2 separate regions of the Homo sapiens genome follow, and region 2 is linked to region 1. A link means that fine-mapping ties the variant in region 1 to the expression of a gene that starts in the linked region. Tissue or cell type: whole blood. Region 1 holds a variant in brackets; the other region holds the start of a gene. All regions are shown on one strand. Distances are from middle to middle.

Region 1 (8,067 bases):
ATCATCTGCGGTCAGGAGTTCAAGACCAGCCTGTCCAAAATGGTGAAACCCCATCTCTATTAAAAAAAAAAATTAGTCGGATGTGGTGGTGGGCGCCTGTAATCCCAGCTACTCTGGAGGCTGAGGCAGGAGAATTGCTTGAACCCGGGGGACGGAGGTTGCAGTGAGCCGAGATGGCGCCACTGTAGTCCAACCTGGGAGACAAAACTCTGTCTCTAAAAGACAAAAAAAAAAAAAAAAAAAAAGGAAAGGTTAATCATATCTATTTGCAAAGCTGTTTTGACAAAGAATGTAGCATGAGGCATATGGTACCTGCTTAATAAATGTTTTTAGAGACAAGGTCTTGCTTTGCTGTCTAGGCTGGAATGCAGTAGCGTGATCATGGCTCACTGCAGCCTTGAACTGCTGCCTCAAGCGATCCTCCCGCCTCGACCTCCCAAAACGCTGAGATTACAGGCATGAGCCAAGCGCCTGGTCCCACTTAAATATTAGCCATTTATTAGCTGTTGATGTTAAATTACCTAGGACTGAGCTTGGAACCAAGAAGGAGATAGTTAAGAGGTGGTGGAGGAAGCAGGGCCTAGGTGTCACCCAGTTGGAAGAATGGGCAGAGGGACTGCCAGGCTGGCTCTGGGCAGGCTCTGGGGGCTGCCCTGCTGGGGGCGGGCTGTGCTGTTCATATTCACACCCAGGGGTGTCCACTGGGCTGGTGCTCCGCTGTGGAGCGGGGACAAGTCGCTCCACTCAACGCCCCTCAGAGAGCTCGTGGCATTGCCCCATCCCTGGCCCGGTGGCGTCCCGCCTTCGGAGAACGGGAGTGAGACAGACGGACACAGGCGGAGTCCAGGCGGCAGGGTTTATTCCGGTCCTCGGGCAGCCTCTCCGCCGTGGACGGGTCCCTCCCTGGGCTCCGGGCCCTGGCCGCCACCAGCCAGCAGCCTCCCGCTAGGCCGGGCGTCTCCGGGGCAGCCGGGTGGGCCCGAGGACGCGGGGCGGACGCGACGCAAGGCGCGGCGGGCACGGTGGCGGCGTCGGCGGCCGCACGGCCACAGGCGGCGGAAGCGCGCGCGGAAGTGGCGCGAGGCGAGCGCGTAGACGAGCGGGTTGAGGCAGGAGTTGGCGTAGGCCAGGCAGTGTGAGGCCAGGCGGCAGGCGTAGGTGGCCGGGCTGAAGGCGAAGCGGCCGTACCAGAAGCACAGGATGAGCGCGTGGTGCGGACCCCAGCAGAGCGCGTAGAGCGCGGCCACCGCCAGCATGGCGCGCCCCGCGCGGCCCGTCGCCCTCCGCCGCGCCTCGGCCGCCGCCGCGCCCGCGGGACCCACGGCGGCCCACAGGAAGCGCAGCGTGCGCCCGTAGGCCAGGCTCACCACAGCCACGGGCAGCAGGTAGCCGGCAGCGAAGGTGGCCACGTCCAGGGCGCGGCGGCGCGCGTCCTCCCAGGCGGGCACGCAGAGCTCCAGCGCGCCGTAGCGCACGGTGCCGTAGTAGCTGAGGTAGGGCGCCGAGAAGAGCGCCGCCAGCAGCCACACCAGCCCCACTGCGGCGCGGGCGTTACGCGGCGTGCGCAGGGCGCGCGAGCGCAGCGGGTGCCGCACGGCCAGGTACCTGCGGAGGGCGCCTGGTCAGCGGGGCGGGCAGGTGCCCTCCCGCAGGGGCCCGCGCCACGTCCCGCGCCCGGGCCCTGCGGCCCAGTGCGCCTCCTGTGAACCGTGGGGGACGTGGCGGGGATTAAGGGTGTGAACGCGCAAGGTGCTTAGGCCCTTGCACCTAGCAAGGGCCCGATCCCGGTGACTTGTTATTTCTAGGATTATTTTATGGATGCGTCAGATGAGGTCCAGAGAGAAGTGACTTGCCCAGGGTCATCAGCTGGAGTGAGCCTGGATTTGACCCCAAGTTTCAAGCTGTGGAAGCAGATGTGTGCACAGCTTGGCCAGGTGTGGGCAGTTAGAAAATAGCTGGGCTGGGCGCGGTGGCTCACGCCTGTAATCCCAGCACTTGGGAGGCCGAGGCGGGCGGATCACTTGAGGTCAGGGGTTCGAGACCAGCCTGTCCAACATGGCAAAACCCCGTTTCTACTAAAAATACAAAAAATTAGCCAGGTGTGGTGGCCTGTAATCCCAGCTACTCAGGAGGCTGTGGCAGGAGAATCGCTGGAACCCAGGAGGCAGAGGTTGCAGTGAGCCAAGATCCAAAAAAAAAAAACAACAAAACAAAACAAAACAAAAAAACTGATGAACGCATTCGTGAGCTTCTTTTGCGATTCATTTCGCGCTTACAGAGCACTTACTATGTGCCAGACCCTGTGCTGCCACTTGAGACTCAGAGGCGTCCTCTGGAAGTTCACAGTGGAGGAGGGGAAGGGCAGGACAGTCCCCTCAAGCACGCCCTGCAGGTGCCCAGAGGCTGCTTGCGAGGGGTCAGGGAGCTTTTGTTTCCTCCCACCCACCTCCCTTTCTGGTCCCCCACTCTCTCCTTCCTAAGGCCAGTGAGGATCTGTTCAGGACTCCTCCCCCAACCCCCGCCCCCACAGCCCTGCCCAGCCAGGCCCCAGGCACAGCGCACCTGTCCACGGAGACAGCAGCCAGCGTAAAGCTGCTGGCGTACATGGTGAGGTAGATGAGCAGGTGCACGGCCTTGCAGACGAGGGCCCCAAAGAGCCAGGCATCCAGCGTGTAGATGGTGGCCTGGAAGGGCACGCAGCACAGGATGAAGCAGAGGTCAGCCACCGCCAGGTTGAGGATGAACAGGTCCGTGGTGCTGCCAGGCTCCTGCCAGGCACTCGGGCCAGGCTGCAGGAGCACTGCCAGCACCAGCCCATTGCCCACTGTGCCCAGCAGGAAGATTAGGGCAAAGACCACAGGCACTGCCACGGCCCCCACACTCCCTGGGCTGTCCAGTGAAATGTTCTGGGCATCAGCCATCTCCCCATCAGACGGGCACCTGGGAAGAGAAGCTGGAATCCTCAGGCAAGAGCCCCCAGTTCTGGTTGCTTGACCCCGGGATCTAACTCCCCCGACCTGGGTCTGGCCAGGTGTTCTGGGCTGGAAGCTCGTGGGAGATGGAGGAGGGGAGAGCAGAGCCAAAGTCATCGCTGAGTGTCACTGTGTGAGCAAGCTCGTGGTGTTCAAGGGGTGAGAGTTCCTCAGTTTCCTAAGGAACACCCCTGGAGTCCTGCCTGGAGGACTACCTAGGTATTTGAGGGACACTTTCAACCCACGAGGCTGGGGAAGGCACAAGCGAAGTAGGATGAAGATATGGCGATGGGGGGAGGGGCCAAACCCAGAAACTGGTATGTTTTCCTTCTCAATGGGGATCTGAAGCTCAGGGGAGACCCTGGGACATGGGTTTAGGGCTTTCTCTGGCTACAAGCTGTAGCCTTAGCAAAACACGGGTAACATCCCTGAGTCATTGGAGGGTCCAGTATAGTGAGATCATCACAATGGCAAAACTGGGAAGACCGTGTAGGTCACTGCTTCCTCTCTGCACATAGGGAAATTGAGGCCCAGAGAGGGGACATGGGAGGATAATATCACACTCGAAATGGCAGCTCTGGGGCTGTTGCCACCCTGGTATCCTGCCTCTTAAGCTAGAGTGCTCATCTGAGAGCTTGTAACAGGTGGTGCCTCTGACAACTTGTGTGTGTGCACACCGCACCCATGCTCACCCCCATCCCACTCTACAGCCCATGTCTCCTACTGCCTGTGGATCTCCTTGCAGGCTTGAGACCACTGGGGTGGTGGGACAAAGTAGGGGAAAGGGGGGTCAGGCAGGGAGTAGGGAAGAAAGGCAATGTCTGCCCCCATCCCAGCACCCAGCATGCAGTAGGTCCCCAAAGCCCAGGATGGGCAACACCCACCTCCGCCTTGGGCAGTGGGCTTGATCCTGGGTGGAATGGCCGGGCTGGGTGGGCCTCCTGATTCAGCGGCTGCCCCTTGGTGCCTCCCTGCAGGTACTGGTCTGCCTTCTACTTCTCCCCCTTTGCCTTTAAGGCCCCTCCTCTCCTCTGCCCCCTCTGCTGAGCCGGAGTTGGGCACTCCCTCTGGAGTAGCCACTGGCCACTTCCTCCTCAGTCCCTGATTTCCCCCAGGTGGCAGGCTCTTCTGCCTGGCTCTTCTCTGCCTCTCTGCGTTGCTGCTGCCTTTTCCTCTCTCTGCAGCCAGTAACCCATTGATCTCGCTCTCTGTGATTTGCTTTGTAGTTAACCCCTCTGTGCCCAGGGCCCAGCCAGTCTCTGGCACTCCCACCTCCTGTGGCCCAGCCTGATGTGACTCCATCCCCTATCCCTGCACCTTCTTGCTCCAATCCATGTTTAGAAAAGGTTCCTAGGCCGGGCATGGTGGCTCACGTCTGTAATCCCAGCACTTTGGGAGGCTGAGGCAGGCAGATCACTTGAGGCCAG[G/A]AATTCGAGACCAGCCTGGCCAATGTGGCGAAACCTTGTCTCTACTAAAAATACAAAAATTAACTGAGCGTCGTGGCGGGCGCCTGTAATCCCAGCTACTCTGGAGGCTGAGGCAGGAGAATCGCTTGAACCTGGGAGGTGGAGGTTGCAATGAGCCGAGATGACGCCACTGCACTCCAGCCCAGGTGATGGAGTGAGACATTGTCTCAAAAAAAAAAAAAAAAAAAAAAAGAAGAGGCTGGGCGCGGTGGCTCATGCCTGTAATCCCAGCACTTTGGGAGGCCAAGACAGGTGGATCATGAGGTCAGGAGTTCAAGACCAGCCTGGCCAAGATGATGAAACCCCATGTCTACTAAAAATACAAAAATTAGCTGGGTGTGGTGGCGGGCACCTGTAATCCCAGCTGCTCGGGAGGCTGAGGCAGAGAATTGCTTGAAGCCAGGGGTTGGAGGTTGCAGTGAGCCAAGATCGTGCCACTGCACTCCAGCCTGGGCGACAGAGCGAGATTCCGTCTCAAAAAAAAAAAAAAAAAAAAAAAAAAAAAGGATTCCTAGTCTTGACTGGGGTTTCCTGGAGTGGGAAACCAGGACTTGAGTCTCCTTTCGGCAGACTCCAGAGACTCCTCCCTCAGGCTCTGCAAATCCTGAGATCCTTCTCCGGAAGCTCTTTCCAGAGCCTTAGTCCAGCTGGAGCCCAGATGGTTTAGGTACCTGTCCAAAAAGTCTGGCTTTACCTGATAGCAACGGGGAACTACTAAGATTCTACAGCAGAGACATGACCCGCACATTTTCTTTCTTTCTTTCTTTTTTTCCCCCCACATTATCTTTTGTAAAAAGTTTGTTATGGGCCAGGCGCAGCGGCTCACACCTGTAATCCTAGCACTTTGGGAGGCTGAGGTGGGCGGATCATCTGAGGTCAAGAGTTCGAGACCAGACTGGCCAACATGGCAAAACCCTGCCTCTACTAAAAATACAAAAATTAGCTGGGCATGGTGGCTCACACCTATAATCCCAGCTACTCAGGAGGCTGAGGCACGAGAATCGCTTGAACCTGGGAGGTGGTGGTTGCAGTGAGCCGAGATCGCTCGCACTCCAGACTGGGCAACAGAGCGACTCTGTCTCAAAAAAAAAAAAAAAAAAAAGTCTATTATTGCCCGGGGTGAAAAGGATGGACAGAGTGGGAGAGATTTGATGAGTGACCTGTTAGGAGCCTCTCGTCTAGGCAAGAGCCAAAGAGGAGAATAGGTCTTGGTGAACGGCTGTGTGATTTGGTCATGGAGTTCTGTCCTGAACTGTGTGGAGGAGGGGCCACATGGCCAAATGCCTCCAGAGGGTTAGGGAGGCTAGCACCTGGGGAGCAAGGTACACTGGATTCAGCAATGAGGAGGCTGCTGGTAAACTGGACAGGTGTTTTGAGGGCAAAAGGCAGTCTGCAGTGAGTTAAGGAAGGGAGGGGAGAGGTGGAGGGGCTGAGTGTAGTGTTTTTAGAAGCTGGGGCTGGGGTTGGGGAGCATCAAGGGGAAGTGCGTAAGGGGAGAGAAAACAGTGTGAGGGGCGCTGATGGAGCCAGGACTCGCATCCCAGGCCGGAGGAGCTGGGGTAGATGCTCAGAACTAGCTCCTTAAGGCCAGGCGTGGTGGCTCATGTCTGTAATCCTAGCACTTTGGGAGGCCAAGGCAGTTGGATCACTTGAGGTCAGGAGTTCAAGACCAGCCTGGCCAACATGGTGAAACCCATCTCTACTAAAAATTAGCCAGGTATGGTGGTGCACACCTGTAATCCCAGCTACTTGGGAGACCGAGGCAGGAGAATGGCTTGAGCCCGGGAGGCGGAGGTTGCAGTGAGCGGAGACTGTGCCACTGCACTCCAGCCTGGGCAACAGAGCAAGACTCAAAAAAAAAAAAAAAGAAAAGAAAAGAACCAGCTCCTCAAAGGCCCCGGGGTTTTCACGAGGGCTCAGAGGTGCCTCTATAGAGCCTGATGTCACCTTCTTTAGATGCAGAAATTCCTCAATTTTTGGAAGCAGAGTCTCACGGAATTGAAACTATTAGGAATCTAATCTAGACTTGCCAAACCTGAATTCAGAAGCTTCAGAATTGAATTAATATATATATATATTTTTGAGACAGTCTCGCTCTGTTGCCCAGGCTGGAGTACAGTGGTGCGATCTCAGCTCACTGCAAGTGCAAGCTCCGCCTCCCAGGTTCACGCCATTCTCCCACCTCAGCCTCCCGAGTAGTTGGGACTACAGGCGCCCACCACACCCGGCTAATGTTTTGTTTTTGTATTTTTAGTAGAGACGGGGTTTCACCGTTTTAGCCAGGATGGTCTCGATCTCCTGACCTCGTGATCCGCCCGCCTCGGCCTCCCAAAGTGCTGGGATTACAGGCATGAGCCACCGCGCCCGGCCAGAATTGAATTAATTCTGAATTGAATTCAGAATTGAATTGCGCAAAGGAATTGTAGACTCTTATGATCCCTGAATGGCGAGACTCAGCTTGGTGGGATTTTAGAAACTTTGACAGACCTGCAACCACTGCGTGAAAGTAACGCACCCTTAGACTCCCAGAAGCCTGGACGAATGTGCATGCCTGAACCCTGGAACGGGCTGGAAAGCATCTGAGATTCATGACTTCGCACTCCTGGCCCTTGGGAGCCCCCTGCCCACAAGGTCCTTCTTGGCCTAGGGCGATGAGCTCCCAGCAGCGGCAAGGCTAAGCTGATATGAGAGCGGAGGTGGAGGGAAGGAGGAAGGAACAGGCGGCCATAAAGAGCGCGGCCGTGAGCCTAGACCTTGGGTGCGCCCGGTGCCACCTCCATCCACTCCTACTGCCGCTTCTGGTAGCCCGCGGCCCTGAACCCCGTGCGCGACGCAGAGAACAAGGACATTGCGCCCTTGGGGCGGTCCTCAGAGCCTCTGATTCTGCAGAACGCAGACTTGCAGCTGGTCCACGGCCGGCCCTCCCGCCCCGCGTGGCCCTACAGCTTGTCGTGGGCGGCCGGCGACTACCGGTAGGCGCCCAAGCCGAAACACGTGCACCCAGAGCGGCTGCTGCGCCTCCTACAGACACCTTCTGGATGACTGCGGAAGAAGCGCGGCGGCGGACCCGGGCTGGTGCAGCAGGACACGCTGAGCCGCGGGTTGGCCAACGGCGTGGAGCCCTACCGCGATCGGCTAGCCCAGGGGGTCGCGGCGCTGCCAGCGCAGCAGGGCAACGCCAGCGGCGGCTCCTGGGAGCCACAGGGGCGGCGACGCACTTTCTGCGCCGCTGTCTGGATCTCGCCTCGTGCCGCCTCACGTCGGTCTGGGTGGACCTGGGCCCTCTGTTCTGGCCCCGCCGGGTGCAGCACACCGACTGCCACACGTCACCCCGCAGCTGCCCGTGGCGCTTAACATGAGCTGCTGGCTAGAGCAGACCATGCTCATCCAGCTGCTGGCTCGACATTACTGGTTGAGCCCTTGTGCACATCCCCTGCAGCAGCGCGCCTGGTGCCACGTGCCCTAGCCGGTGGTGGTGGGCTGCAAATGTTCCTGCCGCTAATGTGGCCACAGCTACCCCAGCCAGGCTGCCTTCCACCCTCACACCGACCCCCCACACCCCCCCTCCCCCAGCTCCTGGACCCCAGCAGCAAGGTCCTCCGGATCGCAGGCTGGGATTCCCTGAATCC
Region 2 (8,067 bases), 85 kb before region 1:
TTCCAGCATTCATTGTCCCATGTGCAAATCAGGAAAAGCACTAATACCACCTCCCAAGCTGGTGGAGTCCCAGCTTGGTAAAGGGCAGGCCTCGCAGATATGAGGGAGCCAGGTAAGCACAGCCCCCTCCTCCTGCCCCCAACACTTTTCCAGGCAGGGGCCAGGGACTGTGAACCCTGGGCAGGAAAGAGTTGCTTGAGGACCTTGGAAGGGGTCTGGTGCCCCAGGGCTGGGTGGACGGGGAGAGGCAAGGTGACTATGTCTGGGCACCAGCTCCCTTTTTGCCACTCTGACCAGGCCACTTCCTTCTCCCCTGGGCTGCCTCCCTAGCTCCCCTTTTCTGCCACTGCCTCAGAGTGCGACCTTAGCAAGGTGTTTCACCTCTCGAAACCTCTGTCTCCCGGTCCGGTTCAGGACACTGCAACAGGGCGAGGAAAACACCATGGTACCCAGCCCCCAACAGAGGCTTTTTCCAAGACCAAATGAGACAAAAGCAACTTGTCTCAGCCGTTTATTTCGGTCACCCCAGAAGTGTTCCAAGAAGGCTGGGGTCACATTCTAGCTACTCTGTGCCCCCAACTCCCTACACAGTTCCCCAAATTTCGAAGATGCTCCGTAAATGTTTGTTGAATGAATCAATGTTGAAAACAGTGTGAAAACTGTAAAAAACCTTCAGGATCCTGCAGGTTTTCTTCCACCCCCATCTCTGTCCCTAATTAACATCTGTGTTTTGGTAACACATATATTTTCTGAGAGTCTTCAGAGGCCTGCGGAGTTCTACTTGGCTCTGGGGAAGATGAAGGACACAGAAATGAAACCCACATGGTCCACGCCCTCAAAGGAGCTTAAGCATGTCTGGATTTCGGGTGGTGCGGAGGGATGGCCCAGCCCCCACAACCCTCGTCCCAGCAGAGCCCTGGGCCAACACTGGGTTCACCCAGGCAGGGCCCACAGCCCCAGAAGCCTGAACCAATTTAGGAGATGATTCTTGCCCTCACTCTAGGCCACTCCTATTCTCACGGAGATCCTCCCAACCCATCACTGAGGACTTCCCTACACATTATGTGGGACCTGGGCCTCAGCTTCTCTCCTGTGCAATGCGCTGGCAATATTGCAAATGAATGCCTGGACATGATTCTGGATCTCAGAAGCGGAGCCACCCTCCCCTGCACATTTTTTCCAGCCACATCCCTCCCTTGCTTAAAACCTACGTGGTTGGCCAGGCGCGGTGGCTCACACCTATAATCCCAGCACTTTGGGAGGCCAAGGCAGGTGGATCACGAGGTCAGGAGATTGAGACCATCCTGACTAACACAGTGAAACCCCGTCTCTGCTAAAAATACAACAAATTAGCCAGGCATGGTGGCGGGCACCTGTAGTCCCAGCTACTCGGGAGGCTAAGGCAGGAGAATGGCGTGAACCCAAGAGGTGGAGCTTGCAGTGAGCAGAGATCATGCCACTGCACTCCAGCTTGGCTGACAGAGCGAGACTCCGTCTCAAAAAAAAAAACCTACGTGGCTCGGCCAGGCATGGTGGCTCACGCCTGTAATCCCAGCACTTTGGGAGGCCGAGGCAGGCGGATCACCTGAGGTCAGGAGTTCGAGACCAGCCTGGCCAACATGGTGAAACCCCATCTCTACTAAAAACTACAAAAATTAGCCAGGCATGGTGGTGCGTGCCTGTAATCCCAGCTACTTGGGAGGCTGAGGCAGGAGAATCGCTTGAATCCGGGAGGCAGAGGTTGTGGTGAGCCGAGATCACGCCACTGCACTCCAGCCTGGGTGACAGGCCTCCATCTCAAAAAAACAAAAACAAAAACAAAAAAAACCCTGCATGGTTCCCTGAGGCCCCTATCCATGCTCCTTAGCCAGCAAAAGCAGCTGTCAGCCATCTGTCCCAACTGCATCTCCCAACTCGCTACCTTGTGCTCCCCACTCAGCTACACAGCCTCCAGCTTTGCACACACCTCCCGCCCCTTGCCTTTGCTCAGATGGGGTCCCATGCCAGAACGTCCACCCAGCAGCCCTCACCTGGCTCCTGCCATCTCCTTGAAGACTATATTCTCCCTAGGAGGTCTCCCACCCCCAGCCCTCTGATAGGGTACATGGAATTGCCATCATCGTTTATACACGTTTCCCCTACAGGTGTGGGAGAGCGTGTAGGGTTGCCTGTTTTGTCGATTGGTACTTCCATTACCAGGTACAGTGTCCAGCACAGAGCAATATGACTCTACAAATACTGGTTGAATAAATGAAGAAATCAAACATTGTTATTGGGCCAGGCATGGTGGCTCATGCCTGTAATCCCAGCATTTTGGGAGGCTGAGGTAGGCAGATTACTTGAGCTCAAGAGTTCAAGACCAGCCTGGGCAACATGGTGAAAACCCATCTCTACAAATACAAACAAATTAGACAGGCGTGGTGGCGTGTGCCTGTGGTCCCAGCTACTAGGGAGGTTGAGGTGGGAGGATTGCTTGAGCCCGGGAGGTGGGGGCTGCAGTGAGCCATGACTGTGCCACTGCACTCCAGCCTGGGTGACAGAGTGAGACCCCATCTCAAAAAAATAAAAAACATTAAAAAAAAAAAAAGTAACATTAGTTACTCACAGTAACTAATGTTAAATGAATGCTTGTTATCTCATGCAATCCTCACATTTCTGTGAGCTGTGTCACATTATCAATCCCACCTCACAGATGAGGACACTGATGCCTGGAGAGAGCCCATGAGGACCCAAGGCCATGCGCCTAAGACATGGAGAAGCTAAACACAAACCAGGCGGCCTTTATTTACTTTGATGCCACCAGGCTCAGGCCCACCAAATGGCTTCACTTCACACCCAAGTCCCCTCCCACACTGGGTTTGTCCCTGCTTCCTGCCTCACTCCTGCCCCTCAAACAAAACAGAAGACCCCTTGGGCCCTCCCTTCCAATGCCCAGGTCTAACCCTGGTGCCCTTTTCCTCCATCCTTCTACCCCCTGCTCCTGGGCAACCAGGCATCAACCTTGTGCTTCCATTAGTATGGGTGTCACATGCCCCACAGCGGGCAGGGGCCCACCTACATGACCACCTCATCTTGTTCCCTTCTGTATCCACAGCCCCAAAACCCTCTCCTCCAGGGCCCAAGCCACCACCCACAGACACGGTACTGCAGGGTACATACAGGTAAACCAGGTGCACCTGCATCATGGAATCCTGAGGCAATCCCTTAGAAGCCTTCCCACATGCTGCCCTCGGACAGTGCAAATCTGGAGGTGGAACAGGCACAGAAAGCCTCCATCTGCCAGGCTGGGGGAGCCCTGGCAAGAGGGCTGCATGCGAAAGGGGTAGGGACCAGAACTCTCCTCCCTGATTCACAGGTGAGACCTGAAGTGCAAGGAATGGCACCAGATAAACTCACCCAGTGTTTTAGGAATGAAGGGACGAAAGGAGGAGAGGTTCCAGGGCTCAAGGCAGAGAGAGCAAAGACAGAGGCTCCAAGTCAACTGTTCCGGGGAGTCTGAATGCATTTTCCCATGAGAACCTCATTGGGCAGCTCTGGGCAGGAAGGGGCCATTTCACAACCTGCAGCACCCGGTTGGTGTCTATCAATCGGATCCTAGGAGTCTTCCCAACATTGCCGGCCTGTGACTCCTCTTGCGCGCCCCACCTGCGTGCCCCACTGAGGAGGGCTGCAGGGCCATCGAGCACACACCCGGGAGGCAGGGCTGCGTCCTAAGTTGGGGGGCGTGGGGAAAGCACAGGGTCTGTACATCCATTCATCCAACACCTGTTAGCCGAGGTCTCCTCTGTGCCGGGAACTGTGCTACTGTCCGGAGACAAGCTCCTATTTGGGGGTCAGAGAAGTGGGGGTTCACCTGCACACCCGGAGCAAGGGGCCACCCCGAGTGGGAAGCCTCGGGGGAGAGGGGAGGCCCGGCGAGCCCGTGGAGAAGAGTTTAGGGTAGGAGAGGCCCAGGGCCCCCAAAGAGGGCTCAACACCCCTTCAAAGAGGTCAAGGGCTTAGGGGTTCAGCGATCCTCGGCGGAAATCAGCGCTTTGTGGGCGGGGCCAGTGTCCCCGCGGAGGGACCAGCCTCGGGGGAGAGTTCGGGATCCCACGGGCGGGGTCAGGGCGGCCGGGCGGGGGAGGGGCGCCCTGGGCCGGGGTCTCAGGGACCCGCCCGGCGTCCGGGGCCGTCGGGGGGGTCGGCGTCTCCGTGTCCGGGGGCGGCGCCTGTCACCGCCCGGGCTTCGTGTTACTGAGGGGGGGCGGCGGTCGCGGCCCCAGCCCGCCCCGCGCCGCCCGCTCGCCCGGGGCCCCGCACTCACAGCAGGTCGGGCCGGTGCCGGTGCAGGATGGCGCAGAAGGCCAGGCCGTCCCGGAAGGAGCTGCTCAGGTCGCGGATCTCCACGCCGCGGTAGCCCTCGCACTGGCGGCGGCACCAGGCCAGCAGCGCGCCCCGCGGCCCAGCCATGACCCCGCGGCCCGCCCGGCTCCGGCTCTGGCTTCGGGGCCCCGGCTTGGCCGGGACGGCGGCCGCCGCGCGGGCCCGGTTTCCGGCTGCGGCTGCGGCTCCGAGCTCGGGCGCCGACCGGCAGGCGAGGGGAGGGGCGGAGGCGGGGCCGCGGTGTCCTCGCTCGGGCGCCCCGCGGCCCTGCCCTAACCTGCCCGAGCAGCGCCGCCGCGTGGCCCGGCCCGGCCGGCCGCCGCCTACTCCGCGCTGCCCGCTCGCCTCATTGTGGGCCGGTCGTGGGAGCGGGCGTCCCGCCGCCTCCGTCCGCGCCGGAGGCGCGCCCCACCCAGCAGCAGCTCCGCCTCCAGTGCGGAGCCCACCCCTACCAAGACGGGCCGGCGCCCCATCGCCCGCCCCTCGACGGCGCCGGGCTCCCGCTGCTCCACTGGGTGCCCGCGAAGCCCCCGCACCCGCCGCAAGCGGACCACTCCCCACGATGACTTCACCGCCGCGGCCGCCGCCGCGCCACCCACCGGGAGCCCTCCACCCTTTGGAGGCGGGACACCTCGTGCTCCCATCCGGCCTCCTTCCCGCTCCTAATGACCGCAAATCCCCCCTTCCACCCCTAGCTTGAAACTTTGGGGAGGCAGTTCCCCTGCAGACCTCAGAGCACCCCCCCCCGGATAGCCACCAGCTTCCCTCATCCCGGCTCCCCACCCTAAAGCACCGCTGAGCTGGAAGTTGTCATGTCCACCATCCCCTCCCCCATAGCTTGGCAGGGAGACCCATGCGCCCCTCCGCCACCTTTGGTCCAGGTGTCCCCTAGGTGATTCACTGAGCTCCCCTCAGCCCCTGTGTAAGCTCAGGGATCTCGTCCCTCCCCACTGCGGCCTGCCGGGTCCCCTCAGCCATGGTTAGTGTGGTGGTGGTTTGAGTTCCTATGGGAAGGACCTAGGCCAAGGAGGCCCCTGCCTGGGAGGCATACAGGCAGTTTGTATCTGGCCCTGGAACCTCCCCAAGGCTCATTCTCTATCTTTGCCGTCTTCAAAACCCCCGCCAGCCAACCGACCCTTCCAGCCAGCCAACCCTTCCAGCCAGCCGACCCTTCCGCAGAGGCCCCTCCTGACTCTCCCACAGATGAATCAGCCTCCATCTGCTGCAGAGGTGGTGATGTCACCCTGACCCATGCAATAGTTAGCTGGAGTGGGTATTTCGCTCCCTCCCAAGGGAAGGAACAGGGTCTTAGTCATCTTCATCACCCCTGAGCACTCAGGGGAGTGGAAAGATCAGGCATTTTGGAGCCCTATTAACCCAATCTCCAATCCTGGCTTTCCCCACTCCCTTAGTCATGTGATCTTGTGCCTCCCTGGACCTCAGTTTCCACGACTTAAAAATGGAGATAATACCTGCTTTACAAGGTGGCTGAGAGGATTAAGATGTAAAGTGCCTTACCCTTTAGTTATCACTCATAAATTCTATTGACTCCTGGTACTTGGTAAACATGATGAAATGGACTGAAATATTTTGTACCCAGATTGTCATCTGGGCCATTCTGGGTAAATTATCAAGGAGAGAGGCCGACTTAGGGAATTCTACCTCTTCAAAGTCCACTGAGTCCCAGTCCAGAATACTGGCCCAGGGCCTGGAGAACCCAGCTTGCCAATCTGGGCTGGCCTAACACTCCTGCAACTGGAAGGCCGCCATCTTGGCTCAGTATATGGACTCTCAGGCCACCTAGGAAGAGCATGGCCAGAGTGCCTGGCTAGCCCTCTGGACTTCTCACCAGCCCTGAGCTGCCAACTCCTGCCCTGTCCCCTGTGGGATAACAGTGGCAGGAAAGCAGGATTCCGGATGCTTTTTATGAAATCAGGGACTTGGGTTCAGGATCCTGACACCAGCATCCACCTAGGCCTTCAAAGACCACCCAGGACTCTCATTAAAACCTAAGGGGGGCGGGGTTGGGCACCATGGCTCATACCTGTAATCCCAGCATTTTGGGAGGCCGAGGCAGGTGGATCACCTGAGGTCAAGAGCTTGAGAACAGCCTGGCCAACATAGTGAAACCCCGTCTGTACTAAAAATACAAAAAATTGGGCCAGGCGCGGTGGCTCACTGTAATCCCAGCACTTTGGGAGGCCAAGGTGGGCGGATCATGAGGTCAGGAGTTCAAGACCAGCCTGGCTAAGATGGTGAAAGCCCGTGTCTACTAAAAATAAAAAAATTAGCCAGGCGTGGTGGCACGTGCCTATAGTCCCAGCTACTCGAGAGGCTGAGGCAGGACAATCGCTTGAACCTGGGAGGCGGAGGTTGCAGTGAGCCAAGATCACGCCACTGTACTCCAACCTGGGGGACACAGCGAGACTCCATCTCAAAGATGGTGGGTTTTTTTGGCTCACGCCTGTAATCCCAGCACTTTGGGAGGCCAAGGCAGGCAGATCACGAGGTCAGGAGATCGAGACCAGCCTGGCTAACACGGTGAAACCTCATCTCTACTAAAAATACAAAAAATTAGCTGGGCGTGGTGGCACACACCTGTAATCCCAGCAGGAGAATGGCTTGAACCCGGGAGGTGGAGGACGCAGTGAGCTGAGATCGCACCACTGCACTCCAGCCTGGGCAACAGAGTGAGATTCCATTTAAAAAACAAAAAACCAAAAACAAACAAAAGAAACCAGGAGGGATTATAGCCCTGTCCTCACTAGCCTAAAGGGCTCCCTTTAGGTCCCTGAAGACAGCTCCATATCTGATCCTGTTGCCATACTAATAGCTTACACAGCACAGCCTGGTCACCCCCATTAGCCATTTGTGGGCTTTATAAACTCATTATCTGAGTCAGCTCACAATGTTTCGAAGTAAGGACCTGTACGACCACAGTGTGTGACCGCAGGCCAGACAACTCACCCTCATGAACCCCAATTTCTTACCCTATAAAATGAGGATGATAATACTTGCTTTGCCTGAATCCCAGGGTTGTGGGTAACAAGGTGAGATAATGGATGAGAAAATGCTGTGCAGACTGTAAATCCAGGGTTCAGGTGGAAGGTGGGTCTGTGTGTTTACAGGTGAGATCAGAAGCCACAGAGATAGGTGAGTAGGGCACTTGCCCAAAATCATGCTATAATTTCGGGATTAGAATTGAGAGACTTGGGCCCTTAATTCAGTGCTGTTTTGTTTTATTTTTAACTATCAATTAAGAAATGGGGCCAGGCACGGTGGCTCATGCCTGTAATCCCAACACTTTGGGAGCCAAGGCCAGGAGTTCAAGACTAAACCAGCCTGGGCAATATAGGGAGACCCTGTCTTTTTTTGAGACGAGTCTCTCTCGCCCAGGCTGGAGTGCAGTGGCACGATCTCGGTTCACTGCAACTTTCATCTCCCAGGTTCAAGTGATTCTCCTGCCTCAGCCTCCCTAGTAGCTGGGATTATAGGCATGGGCCACCAAGCTCAGCTAATTTTTGTATTTTTAGTAGAGACACAGTTTCGCCATGTTGGCCAGGCTGATCTCAAACTCCTGAGTTTAAGTGATGTGCCCACCTCAGCCTCCCAAAGTGCTGGGATTACAGGCATGAGCCACCATGCCCAGCCTGAATACATCATTCTTATCAAAAATTTAAAAATAAATCTAAAGTTCCAGTT

What was found. PIP is the estimated chance that this variant, and not a neighbour inherited with it, causes the effect.
Region 2: it holds the start of MICALL1, and the variant in region 1 is fine-mapped to the expression of MICALL1 in whole blood (TOPMed, PIP above 0.99).

Annotation. Positions count from the first base shown.
Region 1 is chr22:37,818,261-37,826,327 of GRCh38, reverse strand. GALR3 (galanin receptor 3) reads right to left here and starts at 2,946. Exons shown (of 2, transcript NM_003614.2): 1 at 2,563-2,946; 2 at 843-1,605. The coding sequence starts at 2,921. The coding sequence ends at 858. RefSeq lists an enhancer at 6,685-7,236. The variant G/A (reference allele first, on the strand shown) is at 4,400.
Region 2 is chr22:37,902,808-37,910,874 of GRCh38, reverse strand. It overlaps MICALL1 (MICAL like 1), which reads right to left and starts at 4,578. Exons shown (of 16, transcript NM_033386.4): 1 at 4,307-4,578. The coding sequence starts at 4,452. RefSeq lists enhancers at 1-636, 2,626-3,439, 3,440-4,255, 4,256-5,071, 5,072-5,887 and silencers at 4,026-4,135, 4,246-4,965.